2 separate regions of the Homo sapiens genome follow, and region 2 is linked to region 1. A link means that fine-mapping ties the variant in region 1 to the expression of a gene that starts in the linked region. Tissue or cell type: tibial nerve. Region 1 holds a variant in brackets; the other region holds the start of a gene. All regions are shown on one strand. Distances are between the middles of the regions.

Region 1 (7,509 bases):
TTTTAGAGATGGGGTCTCCCTATGTTGCCCAGGCTGGTCTTGAACTCTTGGCCTCAAGCCATGCCCCTGCCTTGGCCTCCCAAAGTGCTGGGATTACAGGCGTGAGCCACCATGCTCATCTTCCTCTGTCTTCAAAGCCAGCAGCATAGCATCTTCCAGTCTCTCATTCTGATCTTTCCGCCTCCCTCTTATAAGGACCCTTCTGATTATATTGGGTCCACCCAGATAATCCAGGATCATCTCCCCATCTCAAGACCCTTAATCACATCAGCAAAGCCCCCTTGCTATAGAAGGTAACATATTCACAGGCTCCAGAAATTAAGATGGCGTTTCGAGGTGGGAGGGAGGCATTATGCTGCCTCCCATGCCCTCCTTGATCATCCAATGTAGAGACCCCCCCCACCAACTCACGACATTTCCTCTCTTGCCTTATGCCCTGCTCTCATTGTGTTCATGTCACTTACATAATTACTATGGCACATACAAGTTTATCTCTCTCTCTCTTTTGTTTTTTTGAGCTGGCATCTTACTGTCGCCAGGCTGGAGTGCAGTGGCGTGATCTCTGCTCACTGTAATCTCCACCTCCCAGGTTCAAGCAATTCTCCTGCCTCAGTCTCCTGAGTAGCTGGGATTACAGGTGCATGCCACCATGCCTAGCTAATTTTTGTATTTTTAGTAGAGAGGGGGTTTCACCATGTTGGCCAGGATGGTCTCGATCTCCTGAACTTGTGATTCGCCTGCTTTGGCCTCCCAATTATCTCTCTCTTTATTGTCTGTCTTCCACTCCTGGAATGTGAGCTCTACAAGGCAGGAACTTTTTGGTCTGTTTGGCCCAATGCCTTATCCCCAGCACATGGAACCATTCCTGGTGCAAAGTAGCCACATGGGCCCGGGTGTGGTGGCTCATGCCTGTAATCCCAGCACTTTGGGAGGCTGAGGCGGGCAGATCACTTGAGGTCAGGAGTTCGAGACCAGCCTGGCCAACATGGTGAAACCCTGTTTCTACTAAAAATACAAAAACTAGCTGGGCGTGGTGGTGGACGCCTGTAATCCCAGATGCTTGGGAGGCTGAGGCAGGAGAATCGCTTGAACCTGGGAGGTGGAGGTTGCAGTGAGCCGAGATTGTGCCACTGCACTCCAGTGTGGTTAACAGAGTGAGACTCCATCGCAAAAAAAAAAAAATAATAATAATAAATAAATGAAAATAAAAAATAGCCACCTGGCCAATATTTATGAAGAAGGTGAAAAGTAGTCTGACTGGACCTCTGTTTCTCACAACCCAAGTGACCTCATAGACAAAACACATGAGCCTGGAGGCGGAGATATGACTTGTTCACAGCCACCCTGCACAGGGAGGAGACACAGGAAGATTCCACTTCTCAGTTTATTTCTGGGACTAAATTTGGGTCAGAGCTGCAGAGAAGGGATGGGCCCTGAGCTTGAGGATGAAAGTGCCCCAGGGAGATTGAGACGCAACCCCCGCCCTGGACAGTTTTGGAAATTGTTCCCAGGGTTCAACTAGAGAGACACGGTCAGCCCAATGTGGGGGAAGCAGACCCTGAGTCCAGGAGACATGGGGTCAGGGGCTGGAGAGATGAACATTCTCAACATCTCTGGGAAGGAATGAGGGTCTGAAAGGAGTGTCAGGGCTGTCCCTGCAGCAGGTGGGGATGCCGGTGTGCTGAGTCCTGGGATGACTCAGGAGTTGGCCTGGATGGTTTCCTGGATCCACTTGGTGAACTTGCAGAGGTTCGTGTAGACACCCGGTCTGTTGGGCCGGGCACAAGGGTAATCTCCCCAGGACACGAGTCCCTGCAGGGAGCCATTGCAGACCACAGGCCCCCCAGAATCACCCTGCAGGAGAGAAAGGGGGGCATGAGAGAGGCAGAGATGTGGCAAAGTGGGCAGAAGGAGACATGAGAGACCCAGAGATGCCCATAGATGGAGAAGCAGATGGGAACAGACACACAGAGATGGAAAGTACAGAGATGAAGAAATGCAGAAAAAGACAGAGATGGAGACACAGGCAAAAGGAGAGAGAGGGAGAATGTTATTAATATTTCACTCCAAATCCAGCTTTTTTTTTTTTGAGATGGAGTCTTACTCTGTTGCCCAGGTTGGAGCGCAGTGGCCTGACCTCAGCTCACTGCAGCCTCCATCTCCCGGGTTCAAGCAATTCTCCTGCCTCAGCCTCCCAAGTAGCTGTGACTACAGGTGTCCATCACCACACCCGGCTAATTTTTTGTATTTTTTTTGTAGAGACGGGGTTTCACCATGTTGGCCAGGCTGGTCTCGAACTCCTGGCCTCAAGTGATTCGCCCACCTCAGCCTCCAAAGTGTTGGGATTACAGGCGTGAGCCACCATGCCTGGCCTCCAAGTTCAACCTTTAGACCCCATTTGTCACTCTCCACTCCATCTTCCTCTTCCAGATTCCTGTTGTCCACACATCATTTCGGGGGGGTCTGTGACCCTTCCTCTCCACATCTCGAATCTTCGTCTCTACTTTCTGTTCCAGCCTGTCTCCCTCATCGTGTATCTCTCCGCCTCCCTTTCTCTCTCACTCTCCCCTCCAGCCTGTGCAGGCCTTATTTCTCTTACTGGACACACACCTTCCTTCCCCATTCTCCACCAACCCATCCTTATACCTCCCTTCTGCAAAAATACGGTTCTCAGCCCCTGGATGAGGGTTCCTCGATCTGGGCACTGTGGGCATCTGAAGCTGGATAATGGTTTGTTGTGGAGGCCTGCCGTGTGCATCATAGCATGTTGAACAGCACACTTGGCATCTATCCATTAGTTGCCAGTAATGCCCCTCCATATAGTTGTGACAACCAAAAATGTCTCCTGGTATTGCCAGTGTCTTCTAGGGGCAGAATCACTCCCAATAGAAATCCATTCGCTTGGACTAATTTGTGTTTCCTGTCTTCAATTCCCCATACCTCCCTATAATTACCCTCCTATAATAATACTCACTGCTCTTCAACAGTCATTTTTTTCCCTCTTTTCCTTCTTTCCTTCCTTCCTCTCTCTTTTCTTTCTTCTTTCTTTCTTTCTTTTTCTTTCTTTCTCTTTCTTCCTTTCTTTCTCCTTCCTTCCTTCCTTTCTTTCTCCTTCCTTCCTTTCTTTCTCCTTCCTTCCTTCCTTTCTCTCTCCTTCCTCCCTTCGTCTCTTTTTTTTTTCTTTCTGACAAAAACGTCTTGCTTTGTCACCCAGGCTGCTGTCTGGAGTGCAGCAGTGCAGTCATGGCTTACCGCAGCCTCAAACGTTTGGGCTCAAGCAATTCTCCCACCTCAGCCTCCCAAGTAGCTGGAACTACAGGTGCAAGCCACCACACCCGGCTAATTTTTTTTTTTTTTAATTTACTACATATTTATCTATCTCTTTATTGCCTGTCTTCCACTTGGGGAACATGAGGTCCACGCGGCAGGAAGTTTTTGGTCTGTTTTGCCTGATGCCATATCCACAGCACCTGGAACCATTCCTGGTGCAAAATAGCCACTCGGCTAATATTTATGAAGAAAATGAAAAGTAGCTTGAGTGGACCTCTGTTTGAGGTAGAGAGAAATGTCTATCTCCCACCTGGGCACGGTGGCTCACACCTGTAATACCAGCAATTTGGGAGGCCGAGGCAGGCAGATCACTGGAGGTCAGGAGTTCAAGACCAGCCTGGCCAACATGGTGGAACCCCATCTCTACGGAAAAAAAAAAATAGCCAGGCATGGTGGTGGGTGCCTGTTATCCCAGCTACTTGGGAGGCTGAGGTGGAAGAAATGCTTGAACCCAGGAGGCGCATGCTGCAGTGAGCTGATATGGTGCCATTGCACTCCAGCCTGGGTGACAGAGCGAGACTCCGTCTCAAAAAAGAAAAGAAAAGAAAAGAAAAGAAATAAATATGTACATACTACAATAATGATGTAAGTGGTATGAATAAAATCTACTAAAATAAAAACAATTAGTATTTTTATTTTTTTAATTTTTAGTTGCCCAGGCTGGTCTTGAACTCCTGAGCTCAAGTGATCTTCCCACTTCAGTCTCCCAGAGTGCTGGGATTACTGGCATGTGCCATTGCACCCGGCTTCATTTCTTACTTACATGCATGCAAAATATGAATTACAGAGTCCTGGTATCAATTATTAGGAAAGCCAAGACTTGCCTTTTTCCCAGTAGCAGACACTGTTTCAAAGCAAACAAGCTTAGCTGCCTGTACCTCTAAATTTCAACTTTCTTGTGGTTTAATTTCTCTCATTATTTTTTAAATTTAATATCTCTGCAGAGTTTCTTTTGAGAGGCTGTTAGTTAACTGCTCTGAGCCTTGGCTCCTTGTTTGTAAAATAGGGCCAATAATAACAGGTAAATGAGTTAATGAGCTGAGGCATGCAAACCACTTAAAACAGTGTCCAGCAATTAGCCAGATGCTATTATTTTTATACTATTGGTATTAGTATTGTTGTAGTTGTTATTATTTCTTGCTTGTAGCTTTTAGTGGCCACACCCAGACCACA[CA/C]CCGGTATGAAAAAACAAACAAAAAAACACCTTGAGGTCTGGAAAAACAAGATACTAACCTTGCCTACAGAAAGGCTAAATAGTTTTAAATGCCACCACTTGAATGAGATGTGATTTCTTTTCTTTTCTTTTTTTTTTTTTGAGACGGAGTCTCACTGTGTTGCCCAGGCTGGAGTGCAGTGGTGCAACCTCGGCTCACTGCAAGTTCCGCCTCCCGGGTTCAGGCCATTCTCCTGCCTCAGCCTCCCGAGTAGCTGGGACTACAGGCGCCTGCCACCACGCCCGGCTAATTTTTTGTGTTTTTAGTAGAGACAGGGTTTCACCGTGTCAGCCAGGATGGTCTCCATCTCCTGACCTAGTGATCCACCCGCCTCGGCCTCCCAAAGTGTTGGGATTACAGGTGTGAGCCACCACGCCCGGCCGAGATGTGCTTTCTTCTGTTAAAAGTTTTCCCCCTCGCAACCCACCCCCCCACACCCAGGGCACAGAGAAGAAATGGGGAGAGCTGGGGAGGTGTTGCATTTGTCAGGTTTGTACAATTTGGGGGGAGCTTTTCATAGCCATGGGACTGGAGTACTCCTGAATCCCCAGCTTCCTAACTACTGTTGAAACACACACCCTGCTAATGAGAGCTTGTTAACTTACGTCCTTCTAGATCCCTTGGGAGCCTGAATACAGAGAAGGGTGCTGGTTGATGTAACAGTTTGATTTTAAATTCTGTCTTCCTCAACAGATACAGCTTCCATTAGAACATAGGGAAGCTCTGTGTTGGTGACCAAGAAATACTTGCAGAGCATTCGCCCCTGCCTACACCTCCAGCGTCACTTTCTACTGTTGCCCCCACTTTTGTTCTCCAGTTGCATTGGTTTCCTCTTCTTCTTTGAATCAGCCAAATTCCTTACTGCCTCAGGGCCTTTGCACGTGCCTTTTCTTTCCCCTTAAACTTCACGAGTTTAGCTTCTTTGTGTCATCCATTCTCTGCTCAAATGCCACCTCTCCAAGGAGGCTCCCCTGACCACCTTTTTGAATATTGGCCCTTATTGTTTACTATCCTAAAACCATGTTTTATTTTGGGGTTAACCTTTACCACTCTCTGAAATTGCCCTATTTATGCAGATTCTTGACCACAGAGTTTTTTATTTTTTAACTTTGTTCCTCCAGCCCTTCCAGCAGCTTTGCAATTAATCCCCTGTATTAAATATTCTCTTGTAAAAATACCTACCAGATTTCTCTTTTCCTTCCTCAAGATATTTTACCAGCACTTGCTAGAAAACTGTCATATTACAGATTTTGTTGAAACAAGACACTTAACTACCACACGCCTGAAAACTGCCAAAACTGACATCTGTAACACGGAGTGCCCCTATTAGATATGGTATCTTTATGCAGTGCACAACCTGCCCAACCATACAAAACAGCCCTGATCTTTCCCTCTAGATCCGTGCCATCCAATACAGTAACTGCTAGCCACATGTGGCTACTGAGCACCTGAAATGTAGCTAGTCCAAATTGAGATGTGCTGTCAGCATAACATATATACTCACTTTCAAAGACTTAATATGAAAACAAGAAAAGAATGTAAAGTATCTCATTCATAATTGTTTTATATTAATTACACTTTGAAATGATTGTATTTGGGATACATTGGGTTATTAAAGTTAACTTCACCTGTTTCTTTTTTACTTGTTTTTTTTTTTCTTTTTGAGACAAAAGTGTCACTCTGTCTCCCAGGTTGGAGTGAGTGGCACGATCTCAGCTCACTGCAACCTCCACCTCCTGGGTTTAAGTGATTCTTGTGTCTCGGCCTCCTGAGCAGCTGAGATTACAGGCGCCCGCCACCATGCCAGGCTAATTTTTGTATTTTTTTTTAGAGACAGAGTTTCGCCATGTTGGCCAGGCTAGTCTCAAACTCCTGACCAAAGGTGATCTGCCTGCCTCAGCCTCCCAAAGTGCTGGGATTACAGGTGTGAGCCACTGCGCCCAGCCTTTTTTACCTGTTTTAATGTGGCTACTAAAAAACTGGAAATGACATAAGCAGCTCAGCATTATTTCTACTAAACACCACTACTCTAGGGTATGAGCTCTGTGAGAACAGGGGTCCTGACTGTCTTGGCAATTGCTGGATTCTCAGAATTTGGCAACGCTCCATGTTACCGAGTTGGCACTCAGTGTGTATCTGCTGAATAAAGAGAGGTGTCCTCACCTGGCAGGAGTCTCTACCTGCTTTGTCACCGGCGCAGAACATGGTGTCATCTATCTGTCTCGGGTAAGCATCCTCGCACCTTTTCTGACTTAGCACGCTGATATTCAAGCACTGGAGGACCTTAGGGAAGTGCACTGTCAAACAGGAACACAATGAGAAGTGGAGAAAGATGGAAGGCGGCAGAGATGGGTCGGTATCAAGAAGAACCTGGACACTCACCTTGGGGGCTCTTGGTTGTCCCCCAGCCAGACACCAAGCACTTTGTCCCAGCAGAGGGACAATGAGAGGAGACGTTGATGGGTCTGACATCTTTAGTGGGACGAATTCTTCTGTTCAGTTTGATGAGCATGAGGTCGTTAGAGTGGCCAGGGTGGGAGTAGCCAGGGTGGGGGATGGATTTGACCCCCTGGAACATCTGCTGCCCAGATTCATAAACTGGTGACAGGGAGTAGTGGCCGAGACGGACTCTGAAAACTCTGAGGAAGATGGGGCAGGTCACCACCAACCCTGATCTCTATCTCCACGTCCAACGCCAATCCCAACCCCACACCCAGCCCCAGCCCCACCCCCATCCCCACCCCCGGTCCCCAAACCATCCTCAACTCCCTCTTGGTCTCCAATCCCATGCCTGTCCCCATCCCAGTCACAATTCCAAACCCATCCCATTCCCAACCCTAATTCTTTCCCTACCCAGAAGCCATCACCATATGCATTCTCAAGCCCAAATCCAACCATCTCCAACCCCACCCAAAACTCCAATCCCCATCCTTCATTCTATATCTGCTCCCAATCTCAACCCTAT
Region 2 (7,509 bases), 55 kb after region 1:
GACAAATCCCAAGAGAAAGGGATTGGAGCTCATTGAGGAAGCACTGAAGTCAATGGCACCATTTACTCCAGCCAACTGGGAAGACACCATTGTCTCCCAAGGAACCAATCACAGGAGAAGGGAACCAGCCTTGGGATTCTAGCCCGGTCTCAAAGAAAAGTGGCTGACCACCGGGCCGGTGGTAAAGTCGGCACAAATTCCACGATGTAATGCTGGGAACCAGAGAGCAGGCAACTCGTCTAAACTCTAGCCTCAGACTCTCTCCTTGCTGGACATCTACCCCACCCTCTATAGCCCCCAACTCTGCATCCCATCCTGTAGTTAAGCGTTCGAAAGAAAACAGCAGCAGCAATTCAATGCTCCTAATCCCTATGCAGTGTGACTTTCAGAGAGAGAGTTTGGCTTCTCTGAACCTGGCTCCCAATCCGTAGAGATAGGGGTGAACACTCCGGGTGCCAAGTCTTTGGGGTCACTCCCTTACCACCCCCACCCCCATCCAAGCCTTGAACCTCGAGAGGGCAATGAGGGATGTGTGAGGAGAAGGATTTCAGAAATTGCTCACCTGGCACGTGTCAGCCCCTTTGCTGCTGCCTGCACAGACCATGCCATCTGTGATCTGCCCCGGGTAAGCATCCTCACACTTCTTCTGGGGAAAGATTTTTACTTCTGCACAGTTGAGAGTGTCAGGAAAATTCTCTGAGGGGGAAGAGGTTGTAAGGTTCCCTGAGAGAGCAGCCCTTTGCCTCCATCCCTGTCTGGATCTAACCCCCTTTCTTTCCAGGATGTAATGGGGGAGTTTTCCAGCTGCATGGGGGAATTTTCTGACACTGTGCACAGGGGACATCACTTCTCACCACATTAAACGAAGCTGTACTTGTTGCTATTGGGCTTTCTCCATCTAGAGAGGGGCCCTTGGATCTCACGTGTTTTTTCTTACCCTGAGCCATTTTCAAATCAAGGGGCTGGGGGTTACTTGGAGGTGCCCCTTTATGATACCTCTGACCCTCTCTTTCCAGTCTTCCTGCCCTCAGACAACCGGGTCCTCAATCTGTGCTAAATCCTGCTCCTTCCAAGTGTCACCTCCTCCTGGAAGCCTTCCCTGACCACTCGAATTAAAAAATACCATCCCTCCATTACTCCCTATCCTTTTACGCTCCACAATATTTCCTTACAGCACTTTGCCTAATGTTTTATTTTATGTGTATTTGTTTATTGTCTATTTCTCCCACCTAGCTTGCAACTCCATAACGACAAGGACTTTGTACAGTTTGCTCATGGCTGTATATCCAGCGCCTGCAACAGCACCTCAGGCATACTAGGTGCTCAGTAAATAAGAGTTGAATTAATGATTGAAGGTGGAATTGATCTTTTTTATTAACCTCTTTTGAGGAATAGACTTCTCCAAAGCCTCTTTGAGGGGGAAAAACTTCCATCTGGCATCTCTACGTGCCAAAAGCAATATGCTCATAATCTCATTTAATCCTCACAACAGCGCTTTGAAGGAGAGATGCATTCATTCATTTCATTATTTATTCATCAGGTCATCCATTCAACAAATATTTATTGAGCATCTACCATGTAGCAGGCACCATTCTGAGCACTAGGAGAACACAATGAAGAAAACTGATGTAACCTGAACCCTCACGTAGCTAAAAAATCTATTGGTTAATGATTCCCATTTTGCAGATAAGGAAAGTGAGGCTCAGAGATGGAAAGGAATTTGCCCAGGGAGAAAGGGCAGAGCCATAGTTTGAACTGATCTACTTGATTTGCGAGCACGTGTGTTTCCACAGCCGCAAACTGTCTCATCCAAAGCATTCAGAGCAGGAGTGAGGCAGGCAGGGACCTGAATGCTGACTTTGCCACTTCCTGGAGAAGCTCCTTGACTCTCTTAGGTGAGTCCCAATGTTTTCACTGTGAAGGAAGGCGAGGGGCTCTCTGGATTCTGGAGTCCCAAAGGGACAGCTTCATTGGAGGTCCAGATTTTGGGGTCCAGAGTCAAGAGGGAGCTAGGACTGCTGGGTCCTGGGAGAAGAAGGGCCTAGACTCCCGGGTCTGAGGGAAGAGGTGACCAGGGCCCAGGTTTCCTGGGTTCAAGAAGGAGAAAAAGGCCAGGGGCGGTGGCTCATGCTTGTAATCCCAGCACTTTGGTAGGCCGAGGCGGGCAGATCACTTGAGGTCAGGAGTTCGAGACCAGCCTGGTCAACATGGCGAAACCCTGTCTCTACAACAAATACAAAAATTAGCTCGCGTGGTGGCGGGTGCCTGTAATCCCAGCTACTCGGGAGGCTGAGGTTCGAGAATCGCTTAAACCCAGGAGGCAGAGATTGTAGTGAGCTGAGATTGTGCCACTGCACTCCAGCCTGGGCGATTGAGTGAAACTGTGTCCCCCTGCAAAAAAAAAAAAAAAAAAAAAAAAAAAAAAAAAAAAAAAAAGGAGGGAGGTGGGGGAGAAGGTGCTTAGGAGCCTGTTTTCCTGGGCCTCTGAGAAGTCCAAATATCCCAAGTGTGTTAAGATTATATAAAATCCTATACAACCAAAGGTCCCATAGGGTAGTGCTCTCCGCCATACAGGATGGGCTTTTCTGGCCCTGCTTAACAATCTGCTAGTTGGTTCTTTCTCTCACCACTCTTGTTAGTAGTCAGATCTTCGAGGCTTCTCATATGACTCCTGCTTGTGAATCTCAACATCATGATCACTTTCCCTTCTTTGTCTCCCTCTGGGGGACCAAGCTTTGCCAATAGCTTGGGTTCCACTGGGCCAACCAGCTCCTCCTCTCCCTCCCATTAGTGGACAAGCCCACTACCTCGGGGACTGGTGACAGTGCCCCAGCCTGAGACGGTGCACTTCTGGCCAGGCTGGGTGCAATGATCTGCCAGGCTGATGGGCTTCACTTTGGACCCCAGGGATGCCTGGTCACGCAGTTGAAGAAGCATCAGATCATGGTTGTGGTCCTCCACATCGCTGCTGTTGTAGCAGGGGTGTGGGATGGACTGAACCACAGGTATTTCTTGCTCTGGGCCATCTTTATTCTGTAGGCTGTGGTCTCCCAGGCGTACTGTGTATTTCCTGTAATGGTGGGGATAGTTTGGGACCCAGGCAGGGGTATTGCCCCCAGCCCCCTCCTCCTTCAGACCCAGGAGTCCAGTCCTCAGCTCTCTCCTTCCTGAGTCGAAACCCCAGCCCCCTCTTTCCTTAAGCCCCAGCTGACCTCTGCCCCCATCATCCACTCACGGTTTTTTACAGTGGGCAGCTGTAAGGACCCAGTTGCCACCTACAAGGACACCGCCACAGAGTAGTTGCTGGCCCTGGAACAAGGCCGCCTGCCAAGGCTGCGAATGGGGTTGGCACTCATGACCCCCCAGCACCTTGTCCTCCTGTGCCCTGGAGTGTCCTGCAGCAGGAGGGAGAGGGTTGGATCGCCACCCTCTGGGGCAGTGCGAGGGCTGGGAAGGCCACTGTGGGTTCAAATGGACACACGGCAAGTTCTCCGCATACAACTTAGTGAGGAGGTCCAGGCTTCCACACGCTGCCACACGGGGACACTCATTTCAGTCCATGTGTCATCATACAAGAGTCACACACCCAAGAATGCCCCCACATGCTTCCACATGAGTCTACAGGCCCCGAGTACTCCCAGGTGAATCTATGCCCCCAAGCAAGCAGCCCCCAAAGGCTGTAGCTATTCAGACAATTTACAGCATCACGGAACCTACTCCTACCTGCTGCTACCTGTTTCTTGCCTCTGTCCACCCTGAGGAAAGCCCACAGAGGCTCCTGCACCGTATCGCACTCTTCACATCCGTGCACACGCACCCACATAACCCCCGCGGCATTCCCACAGACTCCCCAGCGCCACTGCTGCCTTCAGATCCCTCCCCTCCGGAGGCCTCCGCAACCCTCCTCACCTGCCCAGGCTCCCCCCAGCAAGAGCAGGAACATCCACGTCTTGGCCGCACGAGGTCGGGGGCGTCCCATGGTGAGGTCTGGGAAATGGAGAGGGCGGGGCCGGTAAACAGGAAGGAGGAGCCTGAGCTCCCAGTTCTGGATTTGGGCACTGGGGAGGCAGCCGAGAGTATCTGGGGCTGTTCTGGGCTTCTCTGGAGGAAGGAGGAGGCTGGGGGACTGGATTCCTACATTCCAAGGGAGGGGGGAGTCCTCGATGTCTGGGTCTGAGGGGACAGGGAGCTGGGAGCTGGGACTCCTAAATTAGGGAGAGGAGGAAGCCGGGGTCCAGACTGCTGGATCTCGACAGAGAAGGGCATCTGAGGCTGGGGTCCTGGAATCTGGAGAAGGAGGGTCCGGGGCCTGATGTCTGTATCTGAGTACCTCTGCACCTCACCTTCCAGAATCCAGGGGCGGGGTCACCTACTGATTCGGACCCAGTGGAGGAGGCCCCAGTACTTCAGTTCTCTGCCTGGTACACGATTCTGGAGCCTTTTAACTGGGAATCTCCACCTCCTGCTCCTCCTCCTTCTCCTCCTGCACTAGAGCCTGGGGAGCTTCTGGGAACTGGAACACTGGGTGTGAGTGAGAAGGGGCGGAGGGGATTGAACGTGAAATCTTGAGGGAGGAGGGGCTGGAATCTCAGACTCCTGAGGCTAGGGAGAGGAGGGACTCGGTGCTGAGACTCTACGATCTGAAACATAAAGGGCTGGGGGCCAAGATTTTAGTTCTGAGAGGGGAGGAGGCTGGGGGCCTGGATTCCTGGGTCTGAGGGAGGAGAGGCTGGGGGCCTGGACTCCTAAATCTAAGGGAGGAGGGACTGGGACCTGGGATTTAGGTCTGACCGAGGAGGGGCTGGGGGCCCAGACTCCTGGGTCTGAGGGAGGAGGGGGCTGCTAGGGGCCAGGACTCCTGGGTCTGAGGGAGGAGGGGCTAGGGGCCTGGATTCCTGGGTGTGAGGGAGGAGAGAGCTGGGGGCTGAATTCTAAGTACTTTTAAAAGGAGAAGCTTGGAACCTGATCTTTTGTGGGAGGAGGGGGCTGCTGCCAGTAACCGGGAACCGAAGAAAGGCAGGTCTTCTAGGGTCAGAAACCAGAGGGTGGATCAGGCCCCGCCCGCTGTCCCCTGAGAGGTCCGGGATCTGGGAGGGCAGGTTTGGGAGGCACTGTGACCTGGTTTCCCCTTCCCCTGGAGGCGGCAAGACCAACCCAAGCAGAACCCAGGAGTCTTGCTGCAATAGGGCTGATGGACAGAGACTTTAGGCAAAACTTACTAGGGGTTTAAGGGGGAGTTGCAAGGCGGTACCGGTTCCCTCATCTGCCCTTCACCGCCCACCCGTTTGCTCTCCACTCATCTCACAGCTCAGGCAGAAAGAAGGTGAGGTTTCCCGCGTTTACTGAAAAATCATCCGTTGCATTGGCTCTAAAGGTATCCAGACCCTCCCTCAATTTCCCCCCAGGTCTCCGCCAGGATTCAAACCCAGCACACGCCCAGGACGGGGCCACAAGGGGCTGAGCTCTACACCGCCCGAGCTCCACGTGGGCGGAGCTACTGCGCCCCTGACATCACGAGGGGCGAGATCTCTGGTGAAGGAGGCGGGGCCACAAGGGGTGGAGTCCCGAGGGGAAGTCCCACTGGGCAAAGTTCCGAGGGGCGGAGCTATTTTGTGTAAGTGGTTCCTTGGGGCGGAGCCACAGGCTGTGCTGTTCCAAGAAGGAGGTGATGGCTGTCGGTGACGTCATAGAGACGGGCTCTGAAGGGCGTGTCCCTGCTCCGTTCCGAGGGGGCGCGACTGTGTCTTGCTTGACCTCGTGAGGGGGCGGAGCCTCAGGGGCGGAGTCTTAGTGTCCAGAGGGGAGTCAGGGCAGCTGGAGGTCCAGGGCGGGAACCATTGAGGCTGGGACCCTACGAGAACCCCCTACCCCGTGCCCTTCGGCCTCTCTTGGTCTTCCAAGGTGCCCCCGTGGCGCGCGGGCTCAGTTCTCCATGATTTCTTGGATCCAGTCAAGGTAGTGGCATACGCTGGTGTAGACTGCGGGGCGCCGGGGTCTGGAGCAGGGCTCAGCACCCCCAGACACCACGCCTGCCAAGGTTCCATTGCAAACCAGGGGGCCCCCAGAGTCACCCTGTACGCGAGAGAAGGGCAGAGGAACTGTTAGGCCACTCTGTTCATGACAATTACACGGGCCACTTCCTCCCTCCCAGAAAGGCCCCAGCCCCTTCCTCCTCCAACATCCGAGAGTCCTCCATCTCCAGCCTCTTCTTCCTCAGACCCAGGAGTAAAAGCTCAGAGGGCCCACCTCCCCGCAGGACCTAACCTCCTCCTCCCCGAGGACTCAGACTCTGGACGCCCAGCCCACTCCTCCTGTAGATCCAGAAGTCTGGACCTCCAGACCTTTTCTCTTTTACACTAAGGAGTCCAGGCCCTGGTCCCGTCCTCTCCCAGGAACCAGGTATCCCAGTCTCCTTCTCATTTTGACCCAGGAAGGCTGGGGGCCGACCCCTCTGCTCCCCTAAATCCTAGAAAACTTGGCAGGACAGCCTCATTTTCCCCAGAGTAAGGTCTCACCTGGCAGGAACCTCGGCCCCCCTCCCACAGGCCCGCACAGAGCATGCTGTCCGAGATGTGTCCAGGGTATGCCCAGTGACAGAGTTTGTTCTCCAGGATGCTGATGTTGGCACACTGCAGTGTGACTGGAAACAGCGCTGTCAGGGAAGAGAACTGTCAAGGATCTGCAACTGTCTCCAACACACTCAGCACCCCACTGCCCTGAGTCCTCCCTGCAGCTTTTCCAAAGGACCAATGGAGCCACATTTAGGACTCTCAAAGATAGAGACAAGAGACAGTGACAGACAGACAGTCATAGCACACAAGAGAAACAAATGGAGACAAGGAGGAAGAGGGCCAAGTAGAGAGAGAGGCTGGCCGGGCACCGTGGCTCATGCCTGTAATCCCAGTGTTTTGGAGGCCGAGGCCGGCGGATCGCTTGAGGTCAGGAGTTTGAGACCAGCCCAGCCAACATGGTGAAACCCCATCTCTGCTAAATATACAAAAATTAGCCAGGCATGGTGGCAGGCGCCTGTAATCCCAGCTACTCGGGAGGCTGAGGCACGAGAATCACTTGAACCTGGGAGGTGGAGGTTGCAGTGAGCCGAGACTGGTCACTGCACTCCAGCCTGGGAGACAGAGCAAGACTCCGTCTCAAAAAAAAAAAAAAAAAAAAAAAAAAAAAAAAAAAAAAGAAAGGAAGGAAGAGAAACAGAAAGATGCATGCAGAGAGCCAAGAGATAAGAGGAGATGCATATATAACTCCCTAGCACTTTGGGAGGCTGAGGCGGGCGGATCACAAGGTCAAGAGATTGAGACCATCCTGGCCAACATGGTGAAACTCCGTCTCTACTGAAAATACAAAAAATCAGCTGGGCATGCTGTTGCACACCTGTAGTCCCAGCTACTCGGGAGGCTGAGGCAGGAGGATCACTTAAAACCCAGGAGGTGGAGGTTGCAGTGAGCCGAGATCACACCACTGCACTCCAGCCTGGGCAACAAGAGCAAGACTCAG

What was found. PIP is the estimated chance that this variant, and not a neighbour inherited with it, causes the effect.
Region 2: it holds the start of KLK8, and the variant in region 1 is fine-mapped to the expression of KLK8 in tibial nerve (GTEx, PIP above 0.99).

Annotation. Positions count from the first base shown.
Region 1 is chr19:50,941,933-50,949,441 of GRCh38, forward strand. It overlaps KLK5 (kallikrein related peptidase 5), which reads right to left. Exons shown (of 6, transcript NM_012427.5): 4 at 6,927-7,183; 5 at 6,708-6,841; 6 at 1,371-1,854. The coding sequence ends at 1,699. Among named protein-coding and RNA genes, the nearest start is that of KLK5, 7.4 kb to the right of the region's middle. The variant CA/C (reference allele first, on the strand shown) is at 4,504.
Region 2 is chr19:50,997,189-51,004,697 of GRCh38, forward strand. KLK8 (kallikrein related peptidase 8) reads right to left here and starts at 4,416. Exons shown (of 6, transcript NM_007196.4): 1 at 4,344-4,416; 2 at 3,910-3,987; 3 at 3,236-3,395; 4 at 2,808-3,070; 5 at 563-696. The coding sequence starts at 3,979. KLK9 (kallikrein related peptidase 9) reads right to left here. Exons shown (of 5, transcript NM_012315.2): 4 at 6,516-6,652; 5 at 5,320-6,072. The coding sequence ends at 5,923.